Regions from separate parts of the Homo sapiens genome. Here region 1 is linked to region 2. Evidence: fine-mapped expression QTL. A gene starts in region 2. The other region holds a variant in brackets. All regions are shown on one strand. Distances are between the middles of the regions.

What was found. PIP is the estimated chance that this variant, and not a neighbour inherited with it, causes the effect.
Region 1: its variant is the best candidate, but not a certain one, in a credible set for the expression of ZSCAN25 in transverse colon (GTEx, PIP 0.64).

The regions. Positions count from the first base shown.
Region 1 is chr7:99,415,006-99,420,375 of GRCh38, reverse strand. BUD31 (BUD31 spliceosome associated protein) reads right to left here. Exons shown (of 6, transcript NM_003910.4): 4 at 4,116-4,238; 5 at 2,781-2,947; 6 at 760-985. The coding sequence ends at 935. ATP5MF-PTCD1 (ATP5MF-PTCD1 readthrough) reads left to right here. Exons shown (of 9, transcript NM_001198879.2): 9 at 227-3,637. The coding sequence ends at 409. PTCD1 (pentatricopeptide repeat domain 1) reads left to right here. Exons shown (of 8, transcript NM_015545.4): 8 at 227-3,637. The coding sequence ends at 409. Among named protein-coding and RNA genes, the nearest start is that of MIR12119, 8.5 kb to the right of the region's middle. RefSeq lists a silencer at 4,694-4,743. The variant G/A (reference allele first, on the strand shown) is at 2,163.
Region 2 is chr7:99,614,411-99,619,769 of GRCh38, reverse strand. It overlaps ZSCAN25 (zinc finger and SCAN domain containing 25), which reads right to left and starts at 2,824. Exons shown (of 8, transcript NM_145115.3): 1 at 2,754-2,824; 2 at 1,119-1,245; 3 at 638-722; 4 at 1-209. The coding sequence starts at 163. RefSeq lists enhancers at 2,789-3,108, 2,699-3,678.

The DNA of each region.
Region 1 (5,370 bases), 200 kb after region 2:
TGGGCAGATGGCTCTGGGCCTGCCCCAGGGTACCCAGCGGGGACCTGTTTCTCTGAAGTAAGCTAGTCCCATAGTGCGTGTTCACAGCTTTTCTGCCCTGTCCTCTGCAGCCACCTGGAAGGGAAAATGGCAGCCACCAGCTTCCCTGAGGCCTGAGCCAGCTGCCGAGGTTTGGGATTAGCTGTAGGTAACAGGAGTGATTCTAGCCTCACTTTTCTAATTCTAGTACCAAGGGAAGAACACCTACCTGGAGAAGATTGACGGCTTCCGAGCCTATTACAAGCAGTGGCTGACAGTGATGCCCGCAGAGGAAACCCCGCACCCCTGGCAGAAGTTCCGGACCAAGCCCCAGGGGGACCAGGACACCGGCAAGGAGGCTGATGACGGATGTGCCCTTGGGGGCAGGTGATGGGAGCACAGCTGGAACAATGTGCTCGGCCCCCAGTGCTCTGTGGGAGCCCCAGGACAAGTGAGCTGGTGTCACCTCCTGCCTGGGGGAAGAGCCAGGCCCTGAGGAACAGCCGCAGCGTGTCACAGGTGTTGGTGAGGACACACACTAGGCCCAAGGTGCCTGTGCTCCCAGCAGGTCCAAGTGCAGCTCCAGCCACCTTTGCGTGTCACCTTCACGGGACTTCCAGCTCCAGCTACCTTTGTGTGTCACCTCACACACCACAAGGGGGCTGGGGCATCTGGTCCCTGGGGCCTGGGCCGCCCCGCCGGGTTCCATAGGCCGATGCTCTGAAAGAAGAGACGTGGGGCTCGAGAGATTTAAAGATTTTATTTTTACAAATCACAGCTGATAGACAGCGAAGCCTTCCCCATAGAGACCGTGCTCCAACTCGGGCCTGGGGCACTGCTCGCTGCTCCCAGGAAGGGGGTGGCGTGACAGGCAGGAACCTGCGAAGTCCAGAGTCCAGGGTGGAGCGCGCCAGCCTCAGCCAGAGCAGCCACGACAGCCACAGTGTGTGCACTCGATGATGCGGCCCTGCAACGGAGGAGGACAGTGAGACGATGCCACTGCGCCACGCTCGCCCCTGCACACTCACATATGTGGCAACCCTCCCACGAAGGACCTGCCACCATGCCATATAGGGACACACCTCAGAAACCCTTCCTTGACAGCTCTGGACAGGGAAAATTTGGCTCCCTCATGAAGGTAGAACCAGCTGCTGTTGACACCGAGGTTACATCTGTATGTCTATTTATAATATGTTCTGCAAATCCAACACACGTTTGCCAATCAAGAAAAAGAAATCGGTGTGAATGAGTCTCGTTATTCTGCTAAGTGAGCATGACAGACCCTGCGATGAGCAGACGTGGCTCTGCTACTGTTTGGGGACTTCAGGGGGGCCTCTGGGCTGGTACACTCTGGTGGGGGAAGAGGGCAGGAGACTATGCACTTGAGTCACACCCTTCTGGCCCAGAGCCCCCCAGAAAGAAGGGTCTTGTCCCCCAGGCCTGGTGCGGCCCAACACTTGGCCAGCCAGAAAGCCCTAGAACAGTGGCTTGTGTTTATTTTACTTTTTCAAGTTCTTTTTTTGGAAGAACAAGACCATAGTTTAAGTAAACAGGATCCTCTGGTGAAACCCAGGTAAGTCTACAGCGGGCTGTTTTGGCCACAGGGCTGAAGCAGCACCCCAGCCCACCAGCCCCTGACCTGGACTCCTTGTGGAATCTGGGCACTCAGAGGAAGGGGGCTTCTGCCACTCTGCCACCTGTCCCTGCCTCCATCAGAAAACCAACACCCCAGTCTTCCGTCGGGGAGGCGGCCCTTGCTCGCCCCCACTGCTCAGTACCCAAGTCCTCAGCATCCAGCCACAGCTCTCCATTGTCAGTCTCACTGCAGCATAAAGGGGACTCATGTGAAGAGGCCCCTGTGTGGAGCTGGGGAAAAGAAGGCCAGGCTGGCAGATGGGCGGTGGGGCCAACAACTGTGCTGAGGGGCTGCACTGAGCGGCCACTGCTGTGACTCTGCCTCGGGCCACAGCTGCCTTTCAGAGGGGCTTGGAACCGGATGGAGCTCAGCTCCTGTCCCTCAGCACCACTCCTGAGGCGCCTGGCCTAGGAGTGGTACTTGGAACAGAAAGTTCTGAAAGAAGAAACACAGTGGGCTGGGCGCAGTAGCTCATGCCTGTAATCCCGGCACTTTGGGAGGCTGAGGC[G/A]GGTGGATCACCTGAGGTCGGGAGTTCGAGACCAGCCTGAGCAACATTGAGAAACCCCGTCTCTACTAAAAATACAAAATTAGCCAGGCGTGGTGGTGCATGCCTGTAGTCCCAGCTACTCAGGAGGATGAGGCAGGAGAACCGCTTGAACCCGGGAGGTGGAGGTTGCAGTGAGCCAAGATGGCATCACTGCACTCCAGCCTGGGCGACAAAGCAAGACTCCGTCTTGGGGGGGCGGGAAAGATAGTGATGGTAATGTTAAAGTATCACTGTGAGGACTGAAAGGGACAGGAACTCACTGGTTGTCCTTCCCTGATGTCACCCTGCCACCACCTTGGGATTAGGGCTCCCCACCACCATTTCCTAAGTGAGGAAAGGGGTTCAGTAATTTGCCCAAAAGTGGAGTTGAGATTGACCCCAGACCTAACAAACACACAGCCACACGCTGCCTCACATGGATTCCTGAATACAGGGACCCACTCCCACGAGGGAGAGCCAGCAGGACATCCAGGGACAAAACGACATTCCAGCCCAACCAAATAACATAAGATCCCTTGCAGTCGACTAAGGCAGAATTTTGAGCTGAAAACAACACCAAGCTTGAGTGTCAGACATTACCACTTCCAGCTTGCTTTTGGGCACGCGGCAGATGCAGTTCGTCCCGAAGTTGGTGTCCCGTGTCTGAATGCACCGCAGGCAGCACAAGTTCTCATATCCTTGCTTTTTCCATTTTGCAATCAGGTTTTTGTCTGCATAGCCTTCTTTAATACAATATTCATAGAGTTCTGTCAAAAAGATGGGGAAAGAGCATCAGGCCATGGTCTAAAAACCTTCCCCACCCTTGATCAAAAAAAGCATTCAGGCCGGGTGCAGTGGCTCACACCTGTAATCCCAGCACTTTGGGAGGCCGAGGCAGGCGGATCACCTGAGGTCAGGAGTTCAGGACCAGCCCGGCCAACATGGTAAAACCCCGTCTCTACTAAAAATACAAAAATTACTCGGGCGTGGTAGCAGCTGTAATCCCAGCTACTTAGGAGGCTGAGGCAGGAGAATCACTTGAACCCAGGAGGCGGAGGTTGTAGTGACCTGAGGTCGTGCCACTGGACTCCAGCCTGGGTGACAGCGAAACTCCATCTCAAAAAAAAAAAGGCATTCAGTATTGCAACGGGACAGTCCTTGGAGGAGGAACAAAAAAAAAAAGTACTTAGGCCAGGCAAGGTGCCTCACACCTGTAATCCCAGCACTTTTGGAAGCCAACGCCAGAGGATCATTTGAGTTAAGAAACCAGCCTGGGCCAAGGGCCCATCTCCACAAAAAATTTAAAAATTAGCTGGGTGTGGTGGTGCACACCTGTAGTCACAGCTACTCAGGAGGTTGAGGTGAGAGGATCCCTTGAGCCCAGAAGGTTGAGGCTGCAGTGAGCCATCATTGCACCACTGCACTCCAGCCTGTGGAACAGAGCAAGACCCTGTTTCAAAAAAAAAAAAAAAAAAAAAGCCAAGAGCGGTGGACCACGCCTATAATTCCAGCACTTTGGGAGACCGAGTCGGGTGAATCACCTGAGGTCAGGAGTTCAAGATCAGCCTGACCAATATGGTGAAACCCCATCTTTACTAAAAATACAAAAATTGGCCAGGTGTGGTGGCAGGTGCCTGTAATCCCAGCTACTTGGGAGCTGAGACAGGAGAATCGCTTGAACCCAGGAAGTGGAGCTTGCAGTGAGCCAAGATTGCGCCACTGCACTCCAGCCTGGGTGACAGAGTGAGACTCCATCTCAAAACAAACAAACAAAAAACAAACACACACACAAAACTCAGCCAACGTTGGCTCCCCCTAATTTTCGTGGTAAGAAAAACCATGACTTGCACAGGTTGCGAGAATAAGGATTGTGGTTAGTTCAGTAACTCCAAAAGTGACGCGAGCTTCAAAGTCCAAGAGAGACTGACTAATTACCTCTGCTGATGGCTTTCCGCTTGTAAAAGAGGTCGAAGATGTAGCGGGTTTTCTGGTGGTGGATCCTGAAGATGGGCCACAGAGATTCCACTTTCCTCTTTCCCTCATGCGGTTCTGTTTCAGCTGGGGAGAAACAAAGAGTGTGTTTGGGGGAATAGGGTCGGTCTGCGCAGGATTTTCTTTTTGTAAGTAACTACTGATAATGAATAAATACCACTTTATACCCACTAGGATGGCTGTGGGTGGCAAGCCACCCAGGTGCCGAGGCAAGAAACCGAGGGCACGAGCTGTTCTAGTATAATAAAATAAATAAAATAAGAATAGTTATACTAGATATAGATCTTAGATATGATTATATATGAATATCATTAATCCTTAGTTTGTAGCAATTACTCTTTATTCCAATATTATAATAATCCTCACTCGACAATCATAACCTAGGAAACACCAGGCTATACAGAGATGGGAGCTGAGGGGACATAGTGAGAACTGACCAGAAAACGAGTGCAAGCCTTCTGTTATGCCCGGACAGGGCCACCAGAGGGCTCCTTGGTCTAGCGGTAACGCCAGCATCTGGGAAGATGCCCGTTGCCAAGCGGACCTTGGTCTAGCAGTAGCGTTAGTGTCAAGGAAAAACACCCGCTACTTAGCAGACCGGGAAAGGGAATCTCCCTTTCCCCGGGGGAGTTTAGAGAAGACTCTACTCCTCCACCTCTTGTGGAGGGCCTGACATCAGTCAGGCCCGCCCGCAGTTATCCAGAGGCCTAACTATCTCCCTGTGATGCTGTGCTTTGGTGGTCACGCTCCTAGTCCGCCTTCATGTTCCATCCTGTACACCTGGCTCTGCCTTTTAGATAACAATAGCAAATTAGTGAAAGTACTAAAAGTCTCTGATAAGCAGAAATAATGGCATAAGCTGTCTCTCTCTCTCTGCCTTGGTGCCAGGCAGGCAAGGGCCCGCTTTCCAGTGGACACGTGACCCATGTGGCCTTACCTATCATTGGAGATGGTTCACACTGCTTATCCTGCCCCTTTGTCTTGTATCCAATAAATATCAGTGCAGCCTGGCATTTGGGGCCACTACCGGTCTCCGCGTCTTGGTGGGATTCCCAGGCTCAGCTGTCTTTTATCTCTTTGTCTTGTGTCTTTATTTCTACGCTCTCTCGTCTCCACACACGGGGAGAAACCCACCGACCCTGTGGGGCTGGACCCTACAGATGACTATAATCAAAATTATGGCACAATAACAAGTGTT
Region 2 (5,359 bases):
CAGCTGCCTCCTGGTAGCGGAACTGCCGAAACCTCAGCCGAAAAGTCTCTGGACTAGGGTCCTCCCTTCCTCTGCCCCATGGCAACTCTTTCTCCAGTTTCACCACAGGAATACCCAACTGCTGCTGAGGAGCTTCCGCCATCTCTGGATGCTCTTTAAGCATCTTCAGACTCCCTCCGAGGAGACTGAGAATGACTGCATCAATGACCCTTTTGAGAACAAGAGACACATGAAAGGTCAGCCCATCCCAGTTCTGTCTCTACATCAAGGAATATTCCACTGGAGAACACAGTAATTACCTTTTACAAGGCATTTTCAAAAGACTGAACACAGATCCCAAAAGTCAGGTCAATTCAACATAGTAATCATTTGCTAAGCAACTATTAGGTACAGAGACTAAACAGAAAATGTCTAAGATTTTGCTTTTATACCCACAAATAACTTAGGATCTCACTGGAGAATAACACTACAATCAGAGAATAATATATAATGGGTTATAACTGGGTGAGTCACCAGGGCCTACTCTTCCAATACTAAAGGAAACATACATGCAACACACAAACACACACATATACACACACAAGAGGCAGGCAGAAACAACAAATAAAATAGAAAACAAGACACACTGGGAGCTTACCCTCCTGAAACTCATATGCTGGTACAGCAGACAGAAAAAGTCAAATGGAAGCAACTCTTTTAAAAACTGCAAGTGGAGACAAGTTCTAGAAAGAAAATAAGTAGGGTGCTCTGTTAACAGGGGGCAACTGACTTGAAGAAGGCTTTTCTAAAGACATGATACCAGGCTGACTCAAGGATGAGAATGAGTCAGTCATTCTAAGAGCATTCCAGGCAAAAGCCCTGAGGCTAAGAAATTACTCTGGGTGTCCAAGAACAAGCCATATCCCAGTGTGGCTTCAGCAGTGACGAGCAGAGCTGCACCAGAAGAGGTGGCAGAGGCAGACAGAAACCAGATCACCCAGAGCCTGCGCCACAGAAAGAATTATGAACTTTATTCTTATTTCTTACTTTAGCGAGGAACTACATGTTTTATAAAAGTCATTCTGCCTGTGTGTTGACAGGGAATAGGCTAGAGGTGGCAAGAGGGAAATGGCACTTACAGTGATTCAAGCAGATGATAAGGGCTTAGATCAGGGTGGTGGCAAAGAGTCAGACAAAATCAAGACGTATTTTGGAGATTAAAACCAACAAACTTGCTGATGGCTTAGATGTGATGGTGCGCTCAACCTGAAAAAGACAATGGAGCAACATATATACCATTATGACAAATGACCTAAAGATTTCTAACTTGTACAGGCTTTACTCTTTAGAAAGCATGTGAACACATATTTCATCTAATACTTAAAACACTTCTGTAGGATGAGTGCTACTCCTCCTACTTCTCAGAAGAAAAAAAAGAGACTAGATGATAACTGCCTCCCAAAATACATGGTACAGATTGAAAAAAAAATGTGAAGTCAAAAAGAGAGAAAACTAATCTAAGTCCAAGTACTCAAGGAAAAGAAGAGGCTTGAAGTAGACTGGAGAATGAGTCCTATTTACCTCCAAGTGGATTATGCGGAAGACCTAGACTGGGAAGACAGACTTGGAAGTCCAAAGCACCAGGGGAAGGAGATCCTGCTTGTCAGAAAACGGAAAGATCACCTGACTGGAGCAGAGAATGGGCAGCTGGCAGGAGGCACACCCCAAAGCTTCTGCTAAATATTCTATTGTGAGTTTGTGTATTTATCTACCCCCACTTAAACCAAGTTTATATTTTCAGTCTATTCATTGACTCTGCAACATTGAGATTTCTCTTTCATTCCTTTCTAGCTATTGCATTGGTTCACTCCACTAGTGCATTTAATGCACTACAGTGCAAATGTTTACCCATGTGTCTCCCTCTAACAGATTCCCTGGAGGCAAGAAAGATCCTCATTCATCTTTTATCTCTGCCATTTGACAAATAGAAATTGCCCCATTGCTATTCTTTATCTCCCCCCACCCATTGTGACTCTTTTGTTTTGTTTCTGAGACAGGATCTCAGGGTTTTATCACCCCAGCTGGAGACCAGTGGTGCGATCACTGCAGCCTTTGCCTCCTAGGATCAAGCGATCCTCCCACCTCAGCCTCCCGAGTAGCTGGGACTACTGGCGAGTGCCACCATGACCAGCTAATTATTTATTTTTGTAGAGACAGGGTCTCCCCATGTTGCCCAGGCTGGAGTGCAGCGGCATGAATGTAAGTCAGTGCAACCTTGAACTCCTGGGCTCAGGCGATCCTCCTGCCTCAGCCTCCCGAGTAGCTGGGACCTCAGGCGCGTGCCACCACGCCCGGCTACTTTTCAATTTTTGTAGAGACAGGGTCTCGCTATGTTGACCAGGCTGGCTCATCACTATTCTTTAAATAAGTGTCCTATGTGATTACTTTCACTTTGCACAGAGTTCTGCTTTGGTTCAAGATCTCTTCGGGTTCGTGGCCAGCCCTGCACTAAGCCAAGCCTGGCAGAGCGGGATCAGCCTCGCTCCTACCTGAGCCTACAGCGCGGCGGCCCCTCAGCGTCCAGACCCGCAGGGCCTCGGGGCCGCTGAAGGCAGCTCCTGAGAGACTTGCCGCCCTCAGCCGGGGCTGAGCGGAGGGAGACGGGCTCTACTGCAACCCCGCTGCCGCCGAGCCCCGTAGCGGCACCAAAACCCGTCCCCGCGCCCGTTTACCACTTCGCCCGCCACCCGCTGCGGCCCTGAAGAGGCTCTCACCCGCCGCGGCCCTGAAGGGCCTCTCACCCGCTAGGGTCGCCAGTGCTATCCGCGGTCCGGAAGTGAGCTGCGGACGCTGTTAGACAGGTGCGTAAGGAAAGACTCGCTTCCGTGTCCTCTCTAGGATGCTCGGAGGTCTCGGCGGATGCGTCTCGATGGTTGCTGATCCCAGCCTGCTGTTCCGAACCCGGCGAGGCGAAGACCACCAGGGCTTCCCCAGGATTGACTGCCCAGCTCGAGGCGCTCTGTGGCTAGGCCCCTTCCACTTCCGTGCCATTTCACCTGCTTGCCCTCCGTGGAAAGGACTCGGTGCATCGCCAGATACACTACTGGACACAGCACCTGCCCCAAGGGGCTTTAGAGTCCAGTCGGTCAATGCGCGACTATTCCGGCTGCGAGGGCCTTGCGCGAGGCGTAGGGGCAGAGGAGATAGGGGGCGCACTGGATCTAACCGGCTCACTTAAGAGGCTCCTGACCCCGGGTAGTGTGCGTGCGTGTGTGTATGTGTAGTCAGGGAAGGCTTCCTGGAGGAGCCAGCATCGGAGCTGTTTTTTGTGGGGGGTTTTTGTTTGTTTGTTTGTTTGTGTTTTTTGAGAAAGAGAGAGAGAAGTCTTGTTCTGTCTCCCAGGATGGAGTGCAGTGGTGAGATCATAGCTCACTGCAACCTCGAAGCCCTGAGTTCAAGCAATCCTCCCACCTCAGTCTCCTGGGTAGCTGGGACTTTTTTTCAATTTTTTGCAGAGAGGGGGATCTCTCTATGTTGCCCAATCTGGTCTCCAACTTCTGGACTCAAGCGATCTTCCCCCCTTGGCCTCCCAAAGTGCTAGGACTGCAGGCGCAAGCCACCGCGTCCAGCCTGAAGGCAGTCTGTCTCAACTGGGTGGCCCAGTGTTACTCCAGAATCCACTCAGGAAACAGGAAACCCTCTTGTCTTACTCTTCTCCAGCACTTTGCAAAGTGTCTGGTACAATATTTGCTAAAAATATACACTTATAGAGTAAATGAACTCCTAGAATATAACATAGGTGTTAGACCATCTCACTTTATCCTCCATGTCTCTGTCCCACTTTCATATTTTTCTTGTCTGCCCATATTTGACTTGGGTTTATGTCTTCACCTTTTTATTAATAATCCACTTTTCAGCTGTTTCTAATGTGCTACAAAATCCACAGTTGTTGTTTTTTTGTTTTGTTTTGTTTTGTTTTTTAAGAGACGAGGTCTTGCTGTGTCACCTAGGCTGGAGTACAGCGGTGCTATCATAGCTCACTACAGCTTCCAACTCCTGGGTTCAAGCAATCCACCTCAGCTTCCCAAATAGCTGGGACTACAGGCATGAGCCACCACACCCAGCTAATCTTTAAAAAATGTTTTGTAAGGACAGGGTCTCACTATGTTGCCCAGGCTAGTCTTAAACTCCTGGGCTCGAGCAATCCTCCCCACTTGGCCACCCATATTTTTGTTTTAATTAATATATTTTTTCCATTTCTAGAATTTCTATTTGATTTTTTCCAAATATTCTAGATCGATCTTTTAAAAGAATTTACCGATATGTTTAAGCTTTTCTTTGTACATAGTAAATATAGTTGAGCCTGATAATTCTGAGATCTGAAGTCCCCTCAGATATCTTTCTGTGATCTGCTATTTCCACTGTTTTTGATGGTGCCACTTCCACCAGCAGTACCTAACAGCATCCATTTCCCATATCTCATCATCTCTGCCATTATCCAGCTTTAATTTTTGCCAATTGACAGGTGAAGTAAATGTTACCTCATTTTTTAATTTGCATGTTCTTCATTATAAGTGAGGTCAGTCATTATTCCTACTTTCATTAACTTCTTGCCTTCCCTTTTCTGTGAACGGACTTTTCTTTGTGTTTCTATTAAGCTGTTTATCTCTTTCTTATTGATTTATGAGTTCTGGGGACATTATATAATGTCCCTAGAGCATTAAATAATGTCCCCAGGACATTAATTGGGGGCATTCCTCAAACATACCTTCCTCGAACATACCACAGTACCTTGTTTCCTTGTGTGACAGGCTGCTCATTTTCCTTGGAAACATTTTTGTGAAATTTCTTTGAGTTCCAGGATAAAGTGAATTTATCTAGAGAGGGTTGATATTGTTTTTCTTCCATGTAAATTTTTTTCTTGTCAGCATCACCAGTCCAAGGTCATTGTAAACCAAATTTATAATTTGAGGATTTTTGAACCATGCTATAATAGTAATATGAATTTGGGCTGCAAATATTGAGGGGTGATTTGTGGTTGCAACTTCTCAACCACAAATCTTTGTGGTTTTGTGGTTGTCCAGCGTGGCACTAAGACAAATTGCCTTGCTGGCTCCTGGTGGTAGGGGTACGGGAGAGGAGACTTATCTCTCACCCTTACATTGATAACCCAGCCCTTGTCTATGGCCATACCACCCTGAATGTACCGGATCTCTTCTGATAATCCACACTTTTGCAGTCCTTGGTTTATGGGGGGAAAGCTCTCTTATCAGATGCTCTTCCTTGAGTAAACTTTAGGCATAGTTTTAAAAAATCAAATCTCTGCAAGATGATTTCTCTAGGTATTATTCTTTACTTTGATGTTATCTTATAATTCATT